Linked DNA regions of Homo sapiens. The protein of the gene in region 1 purifies or fractionates together with the protein of each later gene. This does not show direct contact. Each region holds a gene or a part of one and is shown in the gene's direction. Other genes may lie near its edges. The genes, in order: DCAF13, FAM76B, UTP15, UTP14A, FTSJ1, CPSF7 and SGSM2.

What was found.
Region 2: the proteins of DCAF13 (region 1) and FAM76B purify together in Homo sapiens (affinity purification with mass spectrometry, with the first as the bait; one large-scale study listed by BioGRID). This does not show direct contact.
Region 3: the proteins of DCAF13 (region 1) and UTP15 purify together in Homo sapiens (affinity purification with mass spectrometry, with the first as the bait; one large-scale study listed by BioGRID). This does not show direct contact.
Region 4: the proteins of DCAF13 (region 1) and UTP14A purify together in Homo sapiens (affinity purification with mass spectrometry; 2 studies listed by BioGRID, with this or other methods). This does not show direct contact.
Region 5: the proteins of DCAF13 (region 1) and FTSJ1 purify together in Homo sapiens (affinity purification with mass spectrometry, with the first as the bait; one large-scale study listed by BioGRID). This does not show direct contact.
Region 6: the proteins of DCAF13 (region 1) and CPSF7 purify together in Homo sapiens (affinity purification with mass spectrometry, with the first as the bait; one large-scale study listed by BioGRID). This does not show direct contact.
Region 7: the proteins of DCAF13 (region 1) and SGSM2 purify together in Homo sapiens (affinity purification with mass spectrometry, with the first as the bait; one large-scale study listed by BioGRID). This does not show direct contact.

What each region holds. Positions count from the first base shown.
Region 1 is NC_000008.11:103,432,386-103,435,885, forward strand, and holds part of DCAF13 (DDB1- and CUL4-associated factor 13), read left to right. Parts: intron 1-273; coding exon 274-356; intron 357-3,240; coding exon 3,241-3,405; intron 3,406-3,500. UniProt on the Homo sapiens protein: Part of the small subunit (SSU) processome, first precursor of the small eukaryotic ribosomal subunit.
Region 2 is NC_000011.10:95,779,783-95,783,282, reverse strand, and holds part of FAM76B (protein FAM76B), read left to right. Parts: intron 1-18; coding exon 19-218; intron 219-3,334; coding exon of another isoform or gene 3,335-3,356; coding exon 3,357-3,404; intron 3,405-3,500. UniProt on the Homo sapiens protein: Negatively regulates the NF-kappa-B-mediated inflammatory pathway by preventing the translocation of HNRNPA2B1 from the nucleus to the cytoplasm.
Region 3 is NC_000005.10:73,572,243-73,575,742, forward strand, and holds part of UTP15 (U3 small nucleolar RNA-associated protein 15 homolog), read left to right. Parts: intron 1-246; coding exon 247-382; intron 383-3,500. UniProt on the Homo sapiens protein: Ribosome biogenesis factor. Involved in nucleolar processing of pre-18S ribosomal RNA. Required for optimal pre-ribosomal RNA transcription by RNA polymerase I.
Region 4 is NC_000023.11:129,916,164-129,919,663, forward strand, and holds part of UTP14A (U3 small nucleolar RNA-associated protein 14 homolog A), read left to right. Parts: intron 1-3,011; coding exon 3,012-3,131; intron 3,132-3,231; coding exon 3,232-3,326; intron 3,327-3,500. UniProt on the Homo sapiens protein: May be required for ribosome biogenesis.
Region 5 is NC_000023.11:48,479,199-48,482,698, forward strand, and holds part of FTSJ1 (tRNA (cytidine(32)/guanosine(34)-2'-O)-methyltransferase), read left to right. Parts: intron 1-1,952; coding exon 1,953-2,005; intron 2,006-2,090; coding exon 2,091-2,144; intron 2,145-2,227; coding exon 2,228-2,330; intron 2,331-2,433; coding exon 2,434-2,517; intron 2,518-3,204; coding exon 3,205-3,308; intron 3,309-3,398; coding exon 3,399-3,500. UniProt on the Homo sapiens protein: Methylates the 2'-O-ribose of nucleotides at positions 32 and 34 of the tRNA anticodon loop of substrate tRNAs. Requisite for faithful cytoplasmic translation.
Region 6 is NC_000011.10:61,405,976-61,409,475, reverse strand, and holds part of CPSF7 (cleavage and polyadenylation specificity factor subunit 7), read left to right. Parts: intron 1-3,500.
Region 7 is NC_000017.11:2,372,001-2,375,500, forward strand, and holds part of SGSM2 (small G protein signaling modulator 2), read left to right. Parts: intron 1-189; coding exon 190-254; intron 255-342; coding exon 343-488; intron 489-952; coding exon 953-1,081; intron 1,082-1,330; coding exon 1,331-1,513; intron 1,514-3,491; coding exon 3,492-3,500.

The sequences.
Region 1 (3,500 bases):
TTTATTGTTTATATTTTAACTTTTATTATGTGTCACATTTTTCTGACTAAACTGTAAGTTGTTTGAGATTAGGAGACTGGGAGTTAAGCATTTCTATTTTTATATTTACTATTCTGCCTGTGTATTTAAGAAGCAATTACTGATTGATTTCTCTTCCCATTGCACTGAGCTGAGTACTTTACACATAATAGGTGTTTATGAAATATTTGCTTAAATCAGTGGGGAAAAGAAAAGGAAAGGAAGTGGGAAATTCATCCATTCTTCCTTTCTCAGGTTATCTTAGATATGAGAACAAATACAATCTGTTGGAACCCTATGGAAGCTTTCATTTTTACAGCAGCAAATGAAGATTATAAGTAAGTTTCCCTCTTTTAAAAACTTGTGTATTTCTATCATGAATGGCTTAATTGTATAAGTCGTACTAATAAAATATATACCACTAGGTAGGTATACCTATAAAGTTTGAAAACTGTCATCTGTTTAGCTTTAAAAAGTTTTCCAAATTGGAGAAGAACTTCTTAGAAAAGTATTTATTTCGTCAGTATTTAGAATGATGTAGACCAGGGACAGTAAACAACTCGTGGACCAAATCCTTTCTGTTGCCTGTTTTTTATAAAGTTTTATTGGAATATGGCCACACCCACTTACTTATTTAGATATTGGATATGGCTGCTTTTGTGCTATAATGCCTGAGTTGAATAGTTGCAGCGGAGACCTTATGGCCCACTTGCCTGAAAATGTTTAACATTTGGCCCTTTACAGAAGAAGTTGGCTGATGTTTGATGTAGGTCTTATAAATAATGACTGAACCATACATGTTTTAATGGAAATGAAAATATCTGCCTGCAATGTTTGTATTGCGGTGAGTATCAGGTAGCTGATGCTCATGTGGTCATGTTATCAGCTATCACTGTTCAGTCAGATGGAAGAAAAATTATAGTTATCTTTTCAGTATCCATATGAGGTAGGTGGGACATGCATGTTATCCCCTTTTTAAGATATTAAAGCGGGGAGATTAGTCTCCCAGGGAGGAAAGAGTATCTTATCTTTTTTTTTCCCAAAGCATTTATTATAGCGCTATGCCTTTGATAGATTCTTAATACATGTTTTTTTTAAGAAGGCAGAAGTTTGTTGGTGGATTGAACTTTAGATCTTTGTATTGTTTTATGTTCCACTATGTAGATTTGGAAGCAAAAAAGTAGTAGTGTTAGCTCATAAAAGGATTTATTATATGATGTTTTAGTGGTACCAACTAAAAGCATCTTTTATGACTTTCTGCTAAAAAGAGGTTTAGTCCAGGAGTTTGAGGTTACAGTGAGTTGTAATTGGGCCACTGCACTCCAGCCTGGCCAACAGAACAAGACCCTGGTGTCTTAAAAAAATAAAAGAAGCTCAGTTAGACTCTCATTAACTAGCAATACCAAACCACAGTAATTGAAGCTTTTTTTTTTAACCTTTATTGATGTTTTGAAATTAAGTGGCATTGTTCCAGTTAAAGGCAATAAAAGACAAGAGTAATACAGCATTATTGTGACCAACCTCATTAAGATTTCTAAAGAATGTTCTAATAAGCTATTTTAGCAAGGTACCGTTTTTCAGAGTGTCCTCGGAATTTCTCATTCCTTGCCTTGAAAAGAATTGCATATGCCACCTGAAACAAAGAGCATATCCCTTATAATAAGTGACTGTTGGAGTATCATAATTGCTCTTTGAAAATGATCTTGCTTTTGTATCCCTTTTCTATATTTGTAAGTATTTTTTTCTTTTATTGCCCTTTAGATATTCTAGTCATTCTGAATTAGAAACCTAAGTTCAAGTCTAGGCCGACCAGTAATTACTGTATAAACTTGGGCAAGTCATTTAAACTAACTCTATATCATAGTTTCAGCATCTGTAAGGTGAGGGTTAGAATAGATGATCCCTAATGAATCCTATAATGTGGAACTTTGTTTATTTAAAGGTTTTCCATGTACACAAATTGATATGCTTAGAATTGGAATTCTTATCATTTTTCCCATGTAGAAATAAAGCATCTTACTAAAAAGCAGTTTGCTGGAACCAAGCAAACCTAGCTGAAAACCACTGTTCTTAGGCAGGAACTGTAAAGCAGTTGTCAATGTCTTACTACTAGTAATGTTAACCTTGATCATTTGGTTAGGGTGGTGTCTGCCAGGTTTCTCCACTAAAGAGTTACTTTTTTTTCCTTTTGTAATTATTATATATCTTTGGGGAGATACTTTGAAACTATGTAGATATCCTCTTCTCAGACTTCTACTCACTAATCTTAGCATCTTCAAGTATTTTTATATTAGGAACTTGGTCACAATATTGCTGTATTACTTTTGTCCATTGTTCATGTTGGTTCATTTGAAGCACTATTCTTTTAGCCATTAGATTAAGAATTTTTGAATCTTGAAACTCATGAAGTCATTGTTTTTACCAATTGTGCATAAAGTATAGTTTCTCATTTTGATTCACCCTTTGAAAGGCCATGTTCACTCTTACATATCACCAGTAGGAGTATAAATTAGTGCAACTTTGTTGGCAGTGATTTGGCAACTCAAATCAAGCCTAAAAATGCTCATGCCTTTAAGCTTAACAATGCTACTTGTAGGAATCTGTCCAGATTTAATTGAACCTGTCCCATTCAGTTAAAGATTGAATGTTAAAAATCCAAACGTTGGGAATTTAATAAGCATTATATATAATAAAATGTTGGAAACTATTAAAATATAGGGAAATAAATTATTTGAACTTATATATACAGCCATTAAAATATTTTCAAAGATTGTTTAATAACATGGGTAATGCTCATTAATATGCTACGTGAAATATCAGAATATAAAGCTTTACATAACATTTCAATTTTATTAAAAGTATGTATTTAAATAGTATGGTGAAAAAGGTTTTTTAAAAAATTATGCTGTACTAAATAACTGGCCTCTGGGTAGTAGAATTCAAGGTAATTTTTGTACTCTACTTTTTTTGAAATTTCCACATTTTCTACAATGAGATTTATAGGGTGGAAAATGTGTTGGTATATATATAAGTGGAGTCTTAAGGAATCATAAAAACTGTTGAAATTTTTCCTTATCCCTCACCTGCTTGTGTACAGCATTGAGCTTTTTGTTTAGATGTGCATTGTTTTGCAAATGGTTCTTGTTTTCAGTGGTATCTTTTAGTACTGCATATGGCATCTTTCTAGAAATATGTGTCAAATATTTAAAAATTCTTTTACAGCTTATATACTTTTGATATGCGTGCACTGGACACTCCTGTAATGGTCCATATGGATCATGTATCTGCAGTGCTTGATGTGGATTACTCTCCCACTGGGAAGGAGTTTGTGTCTGCTAGTTTCGATAAATCTATTCGAATCTTTCCTGTAGACAAAAGTCGAAGCAGGTATGTGCCTACCAGTAAGCCATTTATATTCATATGTCACTTAACAATGGGGATGCATTCTGAGAAATGAGTCATTGGGCGATTTCATCATTGTG
Region 2 (3,500 bases), on another chromosome or scaffold:
AACACATTTTCTTAAAAGGTTGATGGAAAGTTATTATGCTGGCTCTGTACTTTATCGTACAAAAGAGTTTTACAGAAGACGAAAGAACAAAGGAAGAGCCTGGGATCTTCACATTCAAATTCATCTTCTTCATCTCTTACTGAGAAAGACCAGCATCATCCAAAACATCATCACCACCATCATCACCATCACCATCGTCACAGCAGTAGCCATCACAAGTAAGTACTTTGAAATCATATTTTCTAAAACTCTTCCTTGCATTTTAATGCCATTTATTGATGTTTACTTCTTGCAAATATTGACTATGTGCTAGTCTAGTTTCCATTGTACACAGTAAGCATCTTGAGTGTCTAAGGCTGTGTCTCCATTTTATTCAGTGTAGAATGTTATATACATGAAATATGTTGAGCTGTTTACCATAATACAGATATTTAGGAAAATCTATAAAATTATAACCATGTAAAGTCAAAATACAAGTACGTCAGTTAATTAACACTTAAATAACTTATCAAAAGCCTCAGTATTCTTTTTTTGTTTAAATAATTGTTAAGGTTTTATTTGAAAAATTATATTTTAGTTGTCAATTTGTTTTAGTAAAAACAAATCGAAACAAACCAATGACTGGGTTTGGAGAACATATTTTAATACTATAATTTGTTACTATGATAGAAGCATTTCTGATCTTTGTGGTCCCCAAAATATGAGCAATATTTTTAACTAATGATACTTTGTGTTTTTTTCAAACATATATTTAGGAACTCTACTTAAATAGAGACAACTGTAGTTTTCCCTCAGTATGCTTGAGGGATTGGTTCTAGAACCCCCTCATAGACCAAAATTTGCATATACTCCAGTTCTGCAATTGACCCTGTGGAACCTGCCTATAGGAAAAGTTGGCCTTCTATATATGCAGGTTTCACATCCTCCAAATACTGTATTTTTGATCCGTATTTGGTTGGGAAAAAAAAATTCTCCTATAGGTGGTCCCATACATTTCAAACCTGGGTTGTTCAAGGGTCAGCTGTACTTGATTTTTAAAGTGACCTGTGGGGGGAGTTATGTAGTAGTAGTAGTACCTTAACCCTTGATGTGTGTGGTATAAAGATTTTTTAAAATGCAATTTTAGTCTTCACGGAAAAATCAAGAACATGAAAATACAAATTAAACTGACAAACACAAATTAAAATGGAAAAAACGGACATATGGCATGCCCATTTTCAGAATAATTTATTGTTTGTTCTTAAATTTTTCTGTGAGTCTTTAAAGTTTCAGATAGTTATTTAAAACAGAATTTACAAACAACTGATGCCCACCTCATTTTGGAACACATGCAGTATTTTTAGAATGTAATGTAGTTCTGTCTAATTAGTAAGATTTGTTGTAAACTGTATCCAATCACCTATTAGATTATGAGGTTACGTTGAGGTTAGTGATGTTTAATTCTACCATGTTGTAGTGTTTTCTAAATGTGGCAGTGGTAGACTACAATGCAGTGTCTTCTCTTCTGGCTGTTTTGAAGAAACCTTGTGATCTTTATATCAGAGTATTTCAAGAAGCAAAATAATATAAGTCTACCTTGTTTTTGCTTCTTGCTTTAAGAAAAAATATGACAAAATGACTATATACCATAATAGCATATGTCAGACCTACTTCTAAGACTCCCAAAATGTCTCCTTTCCCTATTCTTTACAGATAAATTTGTCTTAGCATGATGTAAAAGGACACAATCAGATTATGTTTGTGAAGACTAAAGTATGTGACAGCAACTTAATTTTTTGAAAGAATGACAGGTTTCAAAAATAAAGGGAAAGAGAACAGTATTGAAAATGAAAGTCTTCAATTTTTTTACTTCTGGTTACTTATGAAATACAAACACTATTTTCTATTTGATGGCTGTTGACCATTTGATGAACAGTTACTTTGTAGGGTCCTATCTTAAGTTCAATAGATCAGAATGAAAATGAGGAGCATTCATATTGTGATAGATAGTGATCGGCAGGGGTAGGGGATGTGGTTGCCAGGTGGCACTAAGGTGGGTCTGAATCTAGGAATGGACAACCCTCAGAAAGATAAGATGGGAATTCCAAGTGTTTCTGTCAGTGATATTAATGTGATTATTCTTAACTTTGAGATATGGTTAGTGCTGTTAGTTCATGTATGGCTTGTTAGGCTTATAATGAAATTTGTGGGAAAAAAAAAAAAGGGACAACTGCATTCCTCAATAGGATTTCCATTCATTCACAAGTAAGAATAACTCACTTGATGGAATTATTGCTATTAACATTTTTTTCCCAACTTGGTACTTGTTTACAGCTGAGTCTTAAGGTTTGTTTTTTTCTTTTGCTTAAAAAACTTCTACAGCTGAACCAATAGTAAATTTTAGACACAAGTAAACATGTATATATATATATGTCTATTTTGTATATGCTAGCACTGTACTAAGTGATTTTACATATATAACTCATTTAATGCTCATATCAGTATAAGGTATGTATTACATATGAGGGAACTAAGGCTGGGGATGTTAAGTAATTTGCATAAGGTCACAGCTCAGGTATTCTAACATCTTCTAAATCGTATAAATACGTGGCATCTGGTTCATAGGAGATGCTCTCTACATGCTGAGTGAATAAGCTAGGGTTAGTGAAGCATTGACTGATATGCAAGTTTAGGAGGAAAAAAATGAAGGATTCATGATGAATTATAAAGTGATTATTAGTATTAGGGTAAAATAGAAAAGGAGTATTACAGTATTAATTATGAGTAAAAGTAAAATAATTTGTTACTATGAAATTTCTCAATAGTTTCAGCGTAACTTCTCCAGAATACTAACTAAAGAGAGCTCTATGGACTTTGGAGAGGATTCTTAAGAAAACTAGGAAAGAATCAAAGAAATCAATATATTTCCCCATTTAAATTGAAATACTATTCTGAGCAACTTGAGTTACTCCAAAAGAAGAATCTCTACTTCAGATTATTAGGAAAGCCTTAACTTTAAAGATACAAATTTTGTGTCTGAAATAGTAAGGGCAGCCAAAGTACAGTGATACCTAGACACAAGCACGAAAACTACTTGTGTAACCCACCCTTTGTATGATATTAAATTGAACTGTGGAGATCCTGATTATAAAGAATTCTTGAAGAACTTGAGATGGTTAGCAGTCATTTTATTAAAATTTATTTCATCAGAATGTGATTTATTCAATATGTATTAGCTTAGTCTGAAAACTTAAATATACCTTTCTCTGAAGAAAATATTATAAACATAAAATTTGTATCCATTGAGAAAGAATGTTAAATTTAGATGTATTAAATAAATAAATGTCATTATTAGATGTCATTTGTGTATTTTTCAGAATCAGCAATCTAAGTCCAGAAGAAGAGCAGGGACTGTGGAAACAGAGGTAAATACATTGCTGTATTTTCTGAAGTATTTTGAAATGTATATTTATAAATGTGATATCCCTTCAACTTTGTTACTTAAGTCTTACCAAAATCAG
Region 3 (3,500 bases), on another chromosome or scaffold:
TTTTGCTGGAATTTATGTACACTTCACAAATATTATTTAATGGTCATAACAGTTCTGTGAGGTAGGAACTGTTATTACCAATGACCCAGGAAGTGGTGCATCCAGGATTTTACCAGGCAGCCTGGCCTGGACTCCCTCACTCAGCCTCCATGCTTTGTGGAGTGTCCAGAGAAGAATGCTTTTCAGATCTTTAATATGTTGAATCTGTGGGCAGAATATCCAACTAACGATGATTTCTTTTTATAGGAGGTCGTTATGTTAAAGTCTGGGACATGTTAAAAGGAGGACAATTGCTAGTATCTTTGAAAAATCATCACAAAACCGTGACATGTTTATGTCTAAGCAGCTCTGGACAGAGGTTACTCTCTGGCTCACTGGATAGGTTGGCATTTTAATTTTTTTGTATATTATTATTAGTGTACACCTGTTTACTGCTTGAGGAAATGAGTTATTTCAGCAATATTTGTGATAAGTATACAGATAATGATTTCCAGGAGAAAAAAACCTGTTGAGTTGAAAATAGTTTTGACCTTTTGTTTACATATAGCTACTTCTTTTCTTTTCTTTTTTTTTGAGACAGAGTCTCACTCTGTCACCTAGGCTGGAGTGCAGTGGTGCAATCTCGGCTCGCTGCAACCTCCGCCTCCCAGGTTCAAGTGGTTCTCCTGCCTCAGCCTCCTGAGTAGCTGGGATAACAGGCACGCGCCACAATGCCCGGCTAAGTTTTTTATTTTTAGTAGAGACGGAGTTTCACCATGTTGGTCAGGCAGGTCTTGAACTCCTGACCTCGTGATCCGCCCACCTCAGCCTCCCAAAGTGCTGGGATTACAGGCGTGAGCCACCACACCCGGCCACCCATAGCTACTTATTTTCTCCTTTGACACAATTTGTTTTAACTTGTATACTTAAACAACATTATTGAACCATTTGAATGATAATCTTTCAAATAATGTTATTCTATAAACCATCTTTTAAAATCATTATTGTACATTCATATATTTTGAAGTTTTTTTTTTTTTTTTTGAGACAGAGTCTTGTTCTGTTGCCCAGGCTGGTGTGCAGTGGCACAATCTGGGCTTACTGCAACCTCTGTCTCCCAGGTTCAAGCGATTCTCGTGACCCAGCCTCCCAAGTAGCTGGGATTACAGGTGTGCAGCACCATGCCTGGCTAATTTTTGTATTTTTAGTAGAGACGGGGTTTCGCCATATTGCCCAGACTGGTCTCGAACTTCTGGCCTCGTGTGGTCTGCCCACCACGCCCTCCCAAAGTGCTGGGATTACAGGTGTGAGCCACTGTGCCTGGCCTGAAAAGTTTTTTAAAAATTAGATAAATTAATTTTTTTTTTTTTTTTGAGATGACATCTCGCTCTGTTGCCCAGGCTGGAGTGCAGTGGTGGGATCTCAGCTCACTGCAACCTCTGCTTCCCGGGTTCAAGCGATTCTGCCTCAGCTTCCTGAGTGGCTGGGATTATAGGCGCTTGCCACCTTGCCCGGCTAATTTTTGTATTTTTAGTAGAGACAGAGTTTCGCCGTGATGGCCAGGCTGGTCTGGAACTTCTGACTTCAGGTGATCCACTCACCTTGGCCTCCCAAAGTGCTGGGATTACAGGCATGAGCCACCACGCCTGACCTAAAAGTTAGATAGCACATTTTATTTAGCCTAATATCTAATGTAAAAATAAAATATATATTACATATAAAATATAATTTCAGTATGTAATCTATGTCAAAATTATTAAGATACTAGAAATAAATTAAGCATCTAAACATGTGCACTATGATACAATAATCATATTTTAGGTTGGTACAGTGGCTTACACCTGTAATCCCAGTGCTTTGGGAGGCTGAGGTGGGAGGATCACTTGAGGCCAGGAGTTTGAGACCAGCCTAGGGAATATAGTGAGACCCCATCTCTACAAAAAATTAAAAAAATTAGCTGGCCACAGTGGTACACACCTTTAATCATAGCTACTAGGGAGGCTGAGGCAGGAGAAGCACTTAAGCCGGAGTTTGAGGTTGCAGTGAGCTGTGATAGTACCACTGTACTCTATCCTGGGTTACAGTGATACCCTGTCTCTAAAAAAAAAAAGATAATATTTTATAAAAATTACTGTCTCAGTTTTTAAATTAAAATTAGATAAAATAAAAAATTTAGTTTCTCATTTTCACTAGCCACATTTCAAGTGGTCAGTAGCCATGTGCAGCTAGAAGTATGGCACAGTTCTAGAATTTACATGATTTATTATTAATTTTTTTTTTTTTTGAGACAGGGTTTTGCTCTGTCGCCCAGGCTGGAGGGCAGTGGCATGATCTTGGCTGACTGCAACCTCCACCTCCTGGCTTCGAGCGATCCCCTCGCCTCAGCTTCCTCAGTAGCTGGGACCACCGGCACGCGCCACTGTACCTGACTCATTTTTGTATTTTTGTTGAGATGGGGTTTTGCCATGTTGCCGAGGCTGGTCTCAAACTCCTGAGTTCAACAGATCCTCCCACCTCAGCCTCCCAAAGTGCTGGATTACTGGCGTGAGCCACCGTGCCCGGCTTACATGATCTATTTTTTATTATTTTATTTCCATATTTTCATTTTTTTCTGCTCTTATGAAAAACTTTAGTTTTCAGCATGTTAATTAAAAAGTATACAGTCATCTCTTGGTAACTGAGGAGAATTGGTTGTGGATGCCCAAGTCCCTTATTTAAAATGGCATATTTGCATATAACCTACACACATCCACTGTATACTTTAAATCATGGCTTGCTTATTTGTAATACCTAATACAATGCAAATGCTATGTAAATAGTTGTTACACTGTATTTTAAAATTCTGTATTGTTTATATATTTATGGATATTTTCAATCCATGGTTGGTTGAATCTGCAGATGTGGAACCTGCCATAAGAAGGATTGACTGTACATATTTTAAAAGCTAGAAAATATTTTTAATACAAAGGAATTTTTTATGTAAATACATGGCAAGTTTACACATGTTACTGAAATCATGTTACTCGGCAATTTGGGACTTGATTCTTAGGTATGTTCCTAAAAGCTAAGTGTAAATTGGCTCTATTTGTGGTGGTTTCAACCAAGAGTGATTTTTGTTCCTCAAGGAACGTTTGACAATATCTTGAGAAAGTATTGTTTTTTATCACAACTCATGGTACTTACCATATAGGGGATAGAGGCCAGGAAGGCTGCTAAACATCCTACAATGCACAGAACAACCCCCACAAAAAAGAATTCTGTGCCCCAAAATGACAGTAATTCTGAGGTTGAGAATCCCTGATCTTTGGCTTCATGTGTACTTTCTTTCTTTCTTTTTTTTTTTTTAATTTATTTTTTTAGAGACAGGGTTTCTTCAAGTTGCCCAGGCTGGTCTTGAACTCCTGGGCTCAAACAATCTGCTGTCCTTGGCCTCCCAGAGTGCTGGGATTACAGGTGTGAGCCATCACACTTGGCTTTGTGATGTGCTTTCATTGATAATTTTTTCTTTTTTTTTTTTTAAG
Region 4 (3,500 bases), on another chromosome or scaffold:
CAGGATGGTCTCGATCTCCTGACCTCGTGATCCGCCCACCTCGGCCTCCCAGAATGCTGGGATTACAGGAGTGAAAATTTCATAACTTTCGACTATCACTCTCAACCCCTTCTTTGAAGCTCCAGTCTCATATTCCATGTGACTAGCAGGGATCACCTGGGTCCCCCATATGCACCTTAAACTTAGTCCAGTCCAAAGTAAGCTTCGCATTTCCTTTCCCCAGACTTCCAAAACCTATACCACCCCCTTCATTCTGCAACTCAGTTAACAGCATAACTCCCTACCCCAGTCACTTAGGTTGGAAACCTCAGTCATTTGATTCCTTCTTGACCCCTTCACTGTCTCCCTCTCCGCCAGCTTATACAGGGGGCTAGACCTGCAAATTCTGTCTCTGTAATAGCCCTTATGCTCCTATTTTCTCTTCATTTTCATTTTCACTGCCCTAATCGAGGCCCTCATTGAACCTTTCCTTTGGAACTTTACATATATCCTCTACACAATCAGCAGGATTTTCTTGCTGAAACACAGTTGATCATTGCTCTCCTGCTTAAAATCCTTCAAAGGCTGTTCACTTACAGAATAAAATAAAATTACGTAGCATTTTAGCTATGCTGGACAACACGTTGTTCTATTACATACCACTCCTTTCCCTGTGTCTGTGTTTTTTGCTTATGCTCATCTGTTTGGATTTTTTTTCCTCCTGACAGAATTGTACTTAGGCCTCAAAGCCTAATTCAAAAGGTCACTTCCTTCCCTAAGCCTAACCTACCTCCCAATAATATTTAATGGTAATTTCCTCTGTGATTACCCCTATAGAATAACGTAGCAGTTATGTTATTTAAGGGTAACATAAAGGGTATTTAACCCATTATGTTATGCTGTTTGTGTTGTATATGTCTCTGCTCTCAAAGGCTGTGAGCTCTATGAGGACAGGAACTATCTTAATCAATTGTGTATTCCTAGCACCCCATACAAGTGCCTGGAATATAGCTACAATCAATAAATGTTTGTAAATTGAATTGAATTGAAGGGACATTACAACATTGTAGTATAAATCACTTTGTAGCCTGAGATTGATCACTACTGCAAATACTAAAAGTGGAAGAACATATACCTTTACTATTCAGTAGAATAGTTTTATGGTTAAATCAATAGCATCGTGTAACATGTGATGATGTGCGTTTATGCATTTATCCAAATATTTGTAAGTTTAATACTGACCACGATGTATATGGCTATTGAAGAAAACCACACATAATATGTGTGTGAGGTTTGAAACTAGCTCTGTTGCCTAGGGCTGTCTTTGTGCCTTGCCAGAATGTGGACCGTGGCATGATCGGCCTGAATATTTAGCCATCCTCATGATAGCATGTGGAATAACTGGTTTACAGTTCATTCGTTTCATACATACTCTGCCTAGCATGTAAAATTAACTGGAAACTGAGGAATTGGAGCCAAAGTTAGAAAATGAGGAGAGTTCAACTTGAACCATCAGGAAACAGGCTGATTACATGAAGGTCTTTTTGTTTGTTTGTTTTTAACATAATAAATAGAGATGGGGTTTCACCATGTTGCCCAGGCTGGTCTCAAACTTGTGGGCTCAAGCAATCCTCCTGCCTCAGCCTCCCGAAGTGCTGGGATTACAGGCCTGAGCCACCATGCCCATCCTATATTTTTTTTCAGGCAATATCCTTTTGTGCTCAAGAAATTAAGACACACACCCCACCACAAACTACATTTGAAGACTCTGCCAAAAAAATGCCATGTTTTTTCTCATTTTCTTTCATCAGTAATTAATGATACCAAGAACACTTATATGCATGGTTTATAGCAGTTGGCTATGGTCAAAAAAAGTTGGGCTTCCCCTCTGAGACATTTGCAGATATATGTCCTAGGTATACCATCAGTGGCAAATAATGCTTATCTTAAGATCTAATCTCACAGGGCATGCTGGGCTCACGCCTGTAATCCCAGCACTTTGGGAGGCCAAGGCAGGAGGATGGCTTGAGGCCAGGAGTTTAAGACCAACCTGGGCAACATGGCAGGACCCTGTCTCTACAAAAAATAAAAAAAGTTAGCCAGGCATGGTGGCTTACACTTGTGGTCCCAGCTGCGCAGGAGGCTGAGGCAGAAGGATCACTTGAGCACTAGAGGTGGAGGTTGCAGTGAGCTGAGATTGGAGTGCCAGTGGACTCCAGCCTGGGTGACAGAGCAAGACTCTGTCTCAGAAAACAAAAAAAAAAAAAAAAAAAACTAACCGCCCCTTCCCTCTAGAAATATTCTAAAAGAAGGCTTATGATATGAATTTGAGATTCCTAACTATAAAGTAATAGTTATGTGCTTCAAATGATACATAACAATACAGGGACTCAAGGGCAATGTGCCTAGATTCTTAAGAGAATGGAAATCAGTTTAACATATATTGGTAATCTGGGCCGGCGCGGTGGCTCACGCCTGTAATCCCAGCACTTTGGGAGGCCGAGGCGGGCGGATCACGAGGTCAGGAGATCGAGACCATCCCGGCTAACACGGTGAAACCCTGTCTCTACTAAAAATACAAAAAATTAGCTGGGCGTGGTGGCAGGCATCTGTAGTCCCAGCTACTCGGGAGGCTGGGGCAGGAGAATGGCGTGAACTCAGGAGGCGGAGCTTGCAGTGAGCCGAGATCACGCCACTGCACTTCAGCCTGGGCGACAGAGCAAGACTCCATCTCAAAGAAAAAAGAAAAAAAAAAACATATATTGGTAACCTGAACACAGTGATCCCCCTCAGCAGTATTAGAGAGTAGCCTCAGCGTCTCCCTGCTGAAGTTGTCTTATATAAGAATCAAATAAGGCTTTATTTATACTTCTGACAACAAGACTGGAACCCCCTTCTCTTGCTGTAACAGCCAATCCTATCCACTTATGATTCCAATTATAGTGTCATAAGTTAGAGAATCATAGGAATGTAAAGAGAGAAAGCTGTAAGAGCATGGCTTAAGACTCAGAATGTTTTGTTGCTTCTTTAAGGCAAGAACTCCCCTGGAGCAGGAAATTTTCAACCTCCTCCATAAGAACAAGCAGCCAGTGACAGACCCTTTACTGACCCCTGTGGAAAAGGCCTCTCTCCGAGCCATGAGCCTAGAAGAGGTAAGTGTGTCATAGGCCCTTCAGCACACCCAGGCATGCCACGCTTCTCCTAGCATTTGTCCTCTGGCCCAGGTGTCACTGTAAGTCTCATTTGTTGTAGGCAAAGATGCGACGAGCAGAGCTTCAGAGGGCTCGGGCTCTGCAGTCCTACTATGAGGCCAAGGCTCGAAGAGAGAAGAAAATCAAAAGTAAAAAGTAAGGAGGCCCCTGTGAACTGGCCTTGGGTTCCACAGAAGAAAGTCATGTGGTTCATCATGAATTCTTTGGAGAGAACCTTTGATGCAGCAACTAGAGTCATGCAGATGAGGTCCCAAACAGGAGTGACTAGCCTTTTGTTCCCCCCAAACCAACCTCATACAGTTTTGCCAA
Region 5 (3,500 bases), on another chromosome or scaffold:
TCACCTCTTCAGTTACTCCCTGCCTCTCCCTTCCGCACTCAGCTTTCTCCCACATCTGGCAACTTCTCCCTACCTCTGCTGCCTGTTCTCTCTCTGCCTCTCTCTTCCTCCCACTTGCACCCCACCCTTTGAGTTTCATGTCTGTTGTCTACCTTTCCCTGCTCTCATCTCTCTGCAACTGTCCAATTCCGTTGCACTGTTCATTCATTTTCAGCCAGCCAGCCATTCAACACACATTTACTGAGCACCTATTGTGTTGGGAAAACATTCATGAATAAAATTCCATTAATCTTTAACCTCATGGAGCTGATGTTCTAGTGGGAGCAAATGGGAAAGAAAATAAATGATTCAGCTCTGTACCATTAAAAGGGGATGGGGCCAGGCATGGTGGCTTCCACCTGTAATCCCAGTGCTTTGGGAGGATGAGGTGAGAGGAACACTTGAGGCAGGAGTTTGAGACCAGCCTTGCAACATAGCAAGACCCTGTCTTAAAATATTAGCTGGCATGGTGATGCATGCCCATAGTCCCAGTTACTCAGGAGGCTGAGGTGGGAGGATCACTTGAGCCCAAGAGGTCGAGGTTACAGTACACTTTGATCGCACCACTGCACTCCAGCCTGGGCAACAGAGTGAGACCCTCTCTCTAAAAAAACGGGGTGAGGAGGCCGGGCACAGTGGCTCACGCCTGTAATCCCAGCACTTTGGGAGGCTGAGGTGGTCAGATCACCTGAGGTCAGGAGTTCGAGACCAGCCTGACCAATATGATGAAACCCCATCTCTACTAAAAATACAAAAATTAGCCAGGTGTGGTGGCATGTGCCTGTAATCCCAGCTACTTGGGAGGCTAAGACAGAAGAATCGCTTGAACCCGGGAGGCGGAGGTTGCAGTGAGCTGAGATCGCACCATTGCACTCCAGCCTGAGCAACAAGAGCGAAACTCCGTCTCAAAAAAAAAAGGTGGGGTGGGGGATGGGTACCATAGGGAAATCATTGAGCAGGAGGAAAGCAGGAGTACCTGTTGGAATTTTAAATCAAGTGGATGGGGAAGGCCTCACTGACTTAACAGCAGAGACTAAAGGAGGTGGGGGAGTAAGCTATGGATATGTCTGGAGGAAGAGCAATCCAGGAAAAATTGCAGCCCGTGCAAAGGTCCTGAGGCAGGAGGGTGCTTGCTATGTATGAGTAATGACAAGCAGATCACTGTGGTTGGAACAGAGTGAGGGGGGGAGAGTGGTAAAAGGTAACATCAGAGAGGTAACAGGGGACAGATCCTATAGGGCCTCGTGGGCCATGGTGAGGCTGTTGGCATTTTCACCGAGATGAGAGCTTGGAGAAAACCATGAGAGGGTTGTGAGGAGAAGAGGACTGTGCTGGGCTTGGGCTACTATGAGCTGTGTGAGGGCCAAGGGCAGAAGCAGGGGCTCCGGGGTGGAGTAGTCCAGGCAAGTGATAATGGGTGAGGGCAGTGGTGGAGAGGAGAAGATCAAGTCAGATCTTTTGAAAGTAGATGTGTTAATGGCTTCGATGTGGGTGTGAGGAGAGGATGCGGGGGGAGCATCAGAGGTGACTAAGGTTTTGGATTTGAACAATTAGAAAGCTCAGATGAGATGGGGAGGATGGTGGGAGGAGCAGGTTTGGGGAGGTAGGTCAGGAGTTTGGTTGTGGATGTATTGGAGATGTAGAATCTGATTTGTGAATCTGGAGTTCAGAGGAACAGTCTGGGCTGGAGGTGGAAATGATAATGATGCTTGTGTGTGAGGTTGTTTTAGAATTGAAATGAGTTCCTAAGGGTTAGGAGCTCAGAATATGCATCCAGTTGGCAGACAGTAATTTGCATCTGGAACCTTAGCAGTAAGACAGCCTGGAAAATGTATTTAGTGTCTGATCTGTGTGGTACAAGAAGATGCACAGAGCCAGATGGGACCCCCCTAACGCTGTTCCTCTTGCCACAGTAACCGGTCTCCATGATGTTGATGAGTATATGCAGGCCCAGCTCCTCCTAGCTGTGAGTAACCCTGGCCACCCCTGACCCACTTTGGCCCCCTCCTGGCTGTCTCCACCTCAGCCTCAGCCGTCTGTCCTGCCCACAGGCTCTGAACATTGCTACACATGTCCTGAAGCCAGGGGGCTGCTTTGTGGCCAAGGTAAGTCTCAAGGAACTTGGTGGAGTAGAGGGAGGTCGCTGAGGGCCACCCTCACCCGCTGTCTTTGCCTTCTCACCCTGCAGATATTCCGAGGCCGGGATGTGACGCTCCTCTACAGCCAGCTGCAGGTCTTCTTCTCCAGCGTGCTGTGTGCCAAGCCCAGGAGCAGCCGGAACTCTAGCATCGGTCAGTGGGGTGGAGGGGCCAGGCAGGCAGAGGGGGATCTCTGGGACGCCGACTGCACGAGGAGGAAGCGGCAGTCATGCCTCACTCCACCTTCCCCTGGCAGAGGCCTTCGCTGTCTGTCAGGGCTATGACCCTCCCGAGGGCTTCATCCCGGACCTGAGCAAACCCCTGCTGGACCATTCTTACGGTGAGAGCTGGAGCATGGGCCACCCTGGGGGACTCTGCCACACCTTATGCAATCTAGGTCCCATGAGGGCCCACAGTCTCACCCCCTGGGGGAGGCTCTGTCCCCTCATGGGAATTTTTTTCCCAAGGGGATCCTTAGCCCCATTCTCTGATGGAAATCCCACCCCTTTATGGGTATTTTGTCCCGGGAGGAGCTTCAGCCCAGGCAGTCCTCTAGTGGTAACTCTTGGGCCTGGTGAAAATTCCATCCCAGGAGGATCCTGAGCCCTGCCCCAGTGGAGACTCCACCTGCCTAAGGACATTCTCTCCTAGGAAGATCTCAGTCATGTCCCAGGTGGAAACCTCCTCGGTGTGAAACTTTTGCCCCTTAAGCCTCTAGCAGGAAGAGACAGAGCCTGCCCCTGGGATGACATTTGAGTGAGGGAGACGTCATCCAGGCAGCATATAATCCAATATCAGGTGGACATAAATGCAGTGAAAAATAGCAGGGCACCGATGTTTTAGAAGGGGTGATTATGGAGGGCCTCCCCGAGGAGGTGATCTGAACCAAATGAAGGATTTCTGGTGGGGTGGGAAGAGAGTAGCTGGTGGATATGTGGGGAGGGTTTGGCAGCCATACCGCCGCCTGTGTCATGACTGGCCCCAGGCATCCTGACCTTGTCCTCAGTTGTCTCCCCCTGTTCCTAAGACCCAGATTTCAACCAGCTGGATGGTCCCACCCGCATCATTGTGCCTTTTGTGACCTGTGGGGACCTGAGCTCCTATGATTCGGACCGCAGTTACCCACTGGACGTGAGTGCCCAACCAACAGTAGGTGGGTGGGAGGGAGGCTGTCCTAGGTTACCAGGTCCTCACCATCTCCCTACCCCTCTGTCCCTGCAGCTAGAGGGCGGCTCAGAGTACAAGTACACTCCACCCACACAGCCCCCCATCTCGCCACCATACCAGGAGGCCTGCACGTTGAAGAGGAAGGGGCAGCTGGCC
Region 6 (3,500 bases), on another chromosome or scaffold:
TTGTTTTGAGACAGAGTCTCACTCTTGCCCAGGCTGGAGTGCAGTGGCGCAATCTCGGCTCACTGCAAACTCCACCTCCCGGGTTCAAGCAATTCTCTGCCTCAGCCTCCCGAGTAGCTGGGATTACAAGCGCCCACCACCACGCCCGGCTAATTTTTGTATTTTCAGTAGAGACGGGGTTTCATCATCTCGGCCAGGCTGGTCTTGAACTCCTGACCTCGTGATCCACCTGACTCGGCCTCCCAAAGTGCTGGGATTACAGGCGTGAGCCACCGCACCCGGCTGTTTTTTTGTTTTGTTTTGTTTTGTTTTTGTTTTTGTTTTTTTAATAGACACATTGTCTCACTCTGTCACCCAGGCTGGAGTGCACTGTCATGAGGCACCATCATGGCTCTGTAACATCAACCTCCTGGGCTCAGGTGATCCTCCTGCCTCAGCCTCCTGAGGGCTAATTTTTAAATTTTTTGTAGAGTCTTGCTTTGTTGCCCAGGCTGGTCTTGAACTCCTGGCCTCAAGTGATCCCCCTGCCTCAGCCTCCCAATGTGCTGTGGGATTATGGGCATGAAGCCACTGCGACTGGCTGTAATTTTCTTTTGAAGCAAAATGAAAGCAGGAAGGTTGGGATAAAAACTCTTAAGTAATGGAGAAGTTCAGTTAAGATTGGTTGGATCCAGGGGCTCTGGCTGTGTCATCCAGACTTTATCTGCATCTCTCAGCTCTGCTTTTCTCTGTTGCTTTCATTCTTAGACAGGCTCCATATTGGTAGGGAGTCAGAGGGGGTGCTGTGTCTTTAGGTTGCATCCTACCAGCTTAGCAATCCCAACTGAAGGAAAACTTCTGGAAAGATTGTTTCTATTATATAAGCATATAGGAGCAGGTGTTGTCTCTGCTTCTATGGAAATCTTTAAAATAGGCCAGAGTGGCTAGGGGTCTGTCTGTAGTTCTTGGAGGCTACTGCGTGACCCAGGTAACTTCAGGGTCCTTTCTTAATTTTGTGGTTGCAGATTTATAAGTCTCTAGGACTTCCCATTTCTCTGTCTCACATCAAGTACATTAGGAAGATGTCCTTGGCCGAGCACGGTGGCTCACACCTGAAATCCCAGCACTTTGGGAGGCCAAGGTGGGTGGATCACGAGGTCAGGAGATTGAGACCGTCCTGGCTAACATGGTGAAACCCCGTCTCTATCCCGACCGAGACCATCCTGGCTAACACGGTGAAACCCCATCTCTACTAAAAATACACACAAAAAAATTAGCCGGGCATGGTGGCAGGTGCCTGTAGTCCCAGCTACTCAGGAGGCTGAGGCAGGAGAATGGCATGAACCCGGGAGGCAGAGCTTGCAGTGAGCCGAGATCGCGCCACTGTACTCCAGCCTGGGCGACAGAGTGAGACTCTGTCTCAAAAAAAAAAAAAAAAAGATGTCCTTGATTATTTGCCTGCTTGATCTAAAGTAATGGTAATTGAAAAGGAAGGTGAGGGGAAAGAATAGTAGTTCTTTTTGGTGTCTTTGGGATGGCGATATCTGGATGAAGAAGGACAAAGAAACTCACCACCTGTGAGCCCCTATAGTTCATGAGCAGTAGCTGGAATGTAAATAGTTGGAAAATTAGCAGTATTTTGCCCAGTGACAACCTACTAAAAACCAAAATACTCCTTTTAGGTTTGGCTACTGCCCTCTGTCTTGTTCTTTGGCCATTAGCTTAAATAGATTTATAGCCAGGAATTGTTTTTATCTTCTCCCAAACAAGTAAGTGGAAAGATGAAAAATTACTAATATTTTTTGTCTCTGTTCTCTGTTGTTAGCCACTCATTTATTCCACAAAATCCTAGAGTGCTTAACATCATTGAAATCTAGGTTAACTCATGTAGAATCAACAGTTAGGCTGTGGGCTCCAGGTACTTCTTTCTAGATTTTGCAACAGGTTGAGTTTGGGGAGATGCCCATGTATCCTCTGGAAAAGCAGACGCTATTGTAGATGGAGACCACAAACAACTTTGGCCTAATTCAGTCTCAGGTGGGCATGAGGGCAGGCATTAGAGTTGGTCTTGGTCCAGTCCTAACTCCCTTTTCTTGTTTGAGTCTGCACAGTTGCTAGTGTTACTTGTGGGTTGAAAAGCACATGTAGGCTACAGTGTATGTCTTTTGGAGCTGACTGGGATAAGAGTGAACAGGAAGGTGATGATTGACCTGTGCAGAGCATGCACTGTCGTCTTTGGGGCTGCATTCAGTTTAGTAGTTAGAACATAAATGCATGTCACCATTCCTGATGGCTTTGCTCCTGACAGCCTTATGACAGGGAAATTACCAGCGAGATCCACTGATCCAGCAGTAGTTTGAGAATTAAACATCTCAACCTGAGTCTTTAGCTGTCACTTTGCATTATTTCTTCCACTTATAAAATGGGGCCAGGCACAGTGGCTCATGCCTGTAACTTCAACACTTTGGGAGGCCGAGAGGGGCAGATCGCTTGAGCTCAGGGACCAGCCTGAGGAACATGGCAAAACACTCGTCTCTACCAGAGATACAAAACTAGCTGGGCATGGTGATGTGCTCCTGTAGTCCCAGCTACTTGGGGGTGCTGAGGCAGGAGGAGTCCCAGCTACTTGGGGGCACTTAGGTGGGAGGATCACTTGAGCCCGGGAGATAGAGGCTGCAGTGAGCCATGTTTGTGCCACTGCACTCCAGCCTGGGCAATAGAGCAAGACCCTGTCTCAAAAAAAATAGTAATAAAAATAAAATAAGATGAGACTATTTCTCCCATTATGAGGATAACTCTCTTTTGGTAACTTTGAAAATGCTGTAACAATATTGCCTAGAAAACAGTCATTTGACTTGTGTAGGCCCATGACAAGATGGGAAAAATTAACTCTGAGGCAGGTTTTCTACTTCCTCACTTTTCCTGGTCACCCGTTTGATATAGTGGTTATTGCATCTGAATAATAGTCTGAAAGAACTGAATCAGGCACCCCAAGAATGTCAATTTCTTACATTCTCACCCTAAGGACTCTTAATTCCATCTGTAGTGACCAAGTTATGGCTTAGGAAGTTTCATGTTGGGAAGATGGTACATGGTCCTCATTTATAGCAACCTTTTAGTTAGAAATGAATCATATTTATATTCTATGATGACAGCTGTTCCCTGAGAGTGAAAGGTACATTTTGTCCAGAGGCAGCAATAGAACAGTAGCCTTCTTTGTCCATCTTTTCTCGGCGTAAGACCCAGTTCTGGGGCCTGAAGGCTAATTGGCCCACTTGAAGGAATCTCTGATTTCTGCCTGCATTCCAACATTGGCACCAAAATGTAGCCATGGAGATTTAAGAATTCAGTGCTATGGCTTGCTTCTCTTGGTGTACAAGTTATCCTCTGCAACCTGTGTCTTCAACTTTTTGTAGTTCTCAACTATGTCAGTTATCTCATTATTTTAGGACATTATCCTACTTGAAATATAGTCATTCTCACGTCATTCCTGTCCTCGTTATCCATTGAAAACTGAGCTT
Region 7 (3,500 bases), on another chromosome or scaffold:
CCCACAGCACTCTGTCCAGGTGGCAGGCAGGGACAGGGCACCCACTGACGGCTGCTGGGCTGCGGCTCCTCCTCCTCGCACCCTCCCCAGTGCCTTACCTGCCCCCCAGGACAGAGCCTCCTCCCTTCTCTCTCTCCTCCCACCAGAGGGGCCGCAGCCCCTCCCTGCTGAGCCCGGTTGTTGCCACAGGTTGCCGCTCAGGCTACTGTGTGAGAGTATGAAGAGGCAGATCGTGTCCCGGGCCTTCTACGGCTGTGAGTGTGGGGCGCGCCGGGCTGTGGCGGGCTGGGGGCGGGCGGCCCTGGGTCCCAGCCTCCTGCTGCCCACCGCTGCCCACCGCAGGGCTGGCACACTGCCGCCACCTGTCCACGGTGCGGACCCACCTGTCGGCGCTGGTGCACCATAGCGTTATCCCACCTGACCGGCCCCCGGGGGCCTCCGCGGGCCTCACCAAGGACGTGTGGAGCAAGTATCAGAAGGACAAAAAGGTGCCAACCCTGGGGTTCCAGGGCCACAGGTCGAGGGGCTGGGGCGGGCAGGAGTGAGGGCTTCAGGGTAAAATGTGCCAGTGGGTGCGGTTGACAGGCCAGGGCCGATGCCACGGAGTGACCAGGGTCCCGGCAGAATCTCTTGCAGCTGGGCCTGGGGCTGACACGGGAAGGGGGCTGGACTGGGAAGCCGTCCTGCCTCCACATCGCCCTGTGACCCTGGACAAAGCTTTGCCTCTCTCCGGGCGCCATTTCCTGCCCCTTAAGGAAGGAGAGCAGAACGAGATCTCATCCCACTGTGAGCTGGGGCACGGGAGGACGTGGCCACCCCAAAGCAGGCCTTGCCTGGGCTTCAGCAGTCACTACAGGCCCCGCCCCAGCCCATTCTCCGTGGGATGGGGCTCACCCAGCTGGGCCACGGTGACTGTGGAGGCTGCACAGTCTTGACTCCCCGGGTCCCTCAGAACTACAAAGAGCTGGAGCTGCTGCGGCAAGTTTACTACGGAGGCATAGAGCACGAGATCCGCAAGGACGTCTGGCCCTTTCTGCTTGGCCACTACAAGTTCGGCATGAGCAAGAAGGAGATGGAGCAGGTGAGGGGAGCCTGTTCCCATGGGGCTGATGAGATGGGGAGCTGGGCCAGGGGACGCCAGGGAGGGGACCTTGGAAGCCTCAGCCCCTTCCCAGCCGGAAAGAAGCATGGCAGGGCAGCTCCACCGTCCTTACCCTGAGGCCCGTCTTGAGTCTGAGACTCAGGACCCAAGGTCCAGTGCAGGCCCAGCTCCTGAAGGGGAGGGCCTGGTGCACGCTTCCCCCATGGTCGTGGTGTGGTCTGAGTACAGGTGGACGCAGTGGTGGCAGCAAGGTACCAGCAGGTGTTGGCAGAGTGGAAGGCCTGCGAGGTGGTGGTGAGGCAGCGGGAGCGGGAGGCCCACCCAGCCACACGCACCAAGTTCTCCTCAGGCAGCAGCATCGACAGCCACGTGCAGCGCCTCATCCACCGAGACTCCACCATCAGCAACGATGTGAGCCAGACGGGACCTGGAGGGTTGGGGGTCTCGGGGGCCACCCGCGTTTTATGCACAGTGGTCCTGAGCACCAGCCTGACCTCTGGGAACTGGTGGGGCCCTGCGAGAAAGGCCTAAGGTGCCTGTGTCTCATTTTCTCCAACTGGAAATGGCTAACTGTGCCTCTGCTGCCTACTTCTCTGGGTATTGTAGGAATAAAGTGAGAGAGTGCATTGTGCTCAGTTTTAGCCAACTATAGGGAAAGATGGACTTACTGGGATTTAGGGAAGCCCTCCTCCTTGTAGAAAGACCTCAAAGCTAGCAACAGGCAGCGCTGGGTTCTAGTCCCAGATCCACTACTGACAAGCTGAATGTCTCTGGGCAAGCACTTCCCGTCTCTGGGTCTCAGTTTCCCCTCTCCACCCATATCCTCTGACTGCAGAGGCTTCCTGAGATCTGTGGGCCTGAGAATAGGGGAGCCCGTAGAGCAGCCCCATTGGTGTCGACTGGCGAGATCCTTCCTCCCCGCGATGTTGCCTGTCACTGTACAGAACTGACTATGGCAGGCTTGTTCGGAGCACGGGAGGGTAGCTCTTTCTGGCATCACTCCTGCCTTTTGAACAGCAAGTTCTAAACTGTGACTGCCTGGCCCAACCAACACTGATAAGTTTCAATTTTAAGGACGCTTTATTAATTTTTCTTTAAAATTGCCTCTTTAGATAATGTGTATTCTTGTTACTTTACTAAATCCTTACCAACATTAACAGAAAATGTAAGTTGAAGTAAGTTAAATATAACTGGCTGGGTGTGATGGCTCATGCCTGTAATTCCAACACTTTGGGAGGCAGAGGTGGGAGGATTGCTTCAGTTCAAGAGTTTGAGACCAGCCTGGGTAACATGGCGAAACCCTGTCTTTACAAAAAATGCAAACCTTTGCCGCATGTGTTGGGGTGCGCCTGTAGTCCCAGCTTCTCGGGAGGCTGAGGTGGGGGGACCACCTGAGCCATGGAGGTTGAGGCTGCAGTGAGCCGTGATACCACCACTGTACTCTAGCCTGGGCCATAGAGTGAGACACCCTGCCTCAGAAATAAAATAAAAAAAAAGAAATAGAACAAACAAGGCACATTGTCATTTCCCACGTGCTTTGTTCTTAATCCCCTATCCAGGAACACATTCTCCCTCTCTCTGGCTTTGGGTTTTGTAAAAATCTGTCTGTGCCAGTGCCCAGCTGCTGAGCTCATGGACAGCAGTAGCTCCTCGCTGGCGTATTAGATTGCCACAGAACCGTGGCCTTACCCAGCACTTCATGCTTCCTGCCCAAAGTAGAAACTACTTTTAGCATTGCTTTCCCTACGTGGTGAAAACAGAGAGAGAAAAATCCCAAACAGTCTCTGTATGTGTCTCTTCTTTTCCTCGTGCCTTGTCCATGGTGGTGGACTGTATCTAGGAGGCAGAATGTTTGCTTTTCCTTCCTACATCTCCCCACCTTGCCTGAGGGCTAATGGAACTGACTAGGTGCTTGCTACAGAACGTTCCTGTCTTGTCCTGCTGAACACTCAGTACTGAAAATAAGGCAAAACTTGTTTTTCCTAAAACCTCTAGGCTTCTCTCCACCCAGCCACACCAAAACACTAAGGCCATTCTCCCGGTCTCATGACTTCAGGCGTTTCTAGAATGAGACTGAGTTCAAACTGGCCATTGAGCGTTCAGCCCCCTGGCTCCCCTACTTCCCTTCAGTAGCCACAGGAAGACCTGGGGCTGTTCCTTCAAGCAGGGCTGAAGACGTGTCTTCATGTTTGGCCAGAGGCTTGTTTCTCTCCGCCTGGCTGGCTGGGTCAGAAGCTGGCTTGGTGCCCCGTGGCCACAGTGTTGGAGGCTGTGGTGGGAGAGGGGGTGTGAAGAGTTTTGCATTCCAGCTCCCTTCTGGCCCGAGGAGGCGGTGGGCTGCGGGAAGGTGCTGGAGTGCAGGTGGAGCCGCCCTGTGTTCACCCCCCAGGTGTTTATC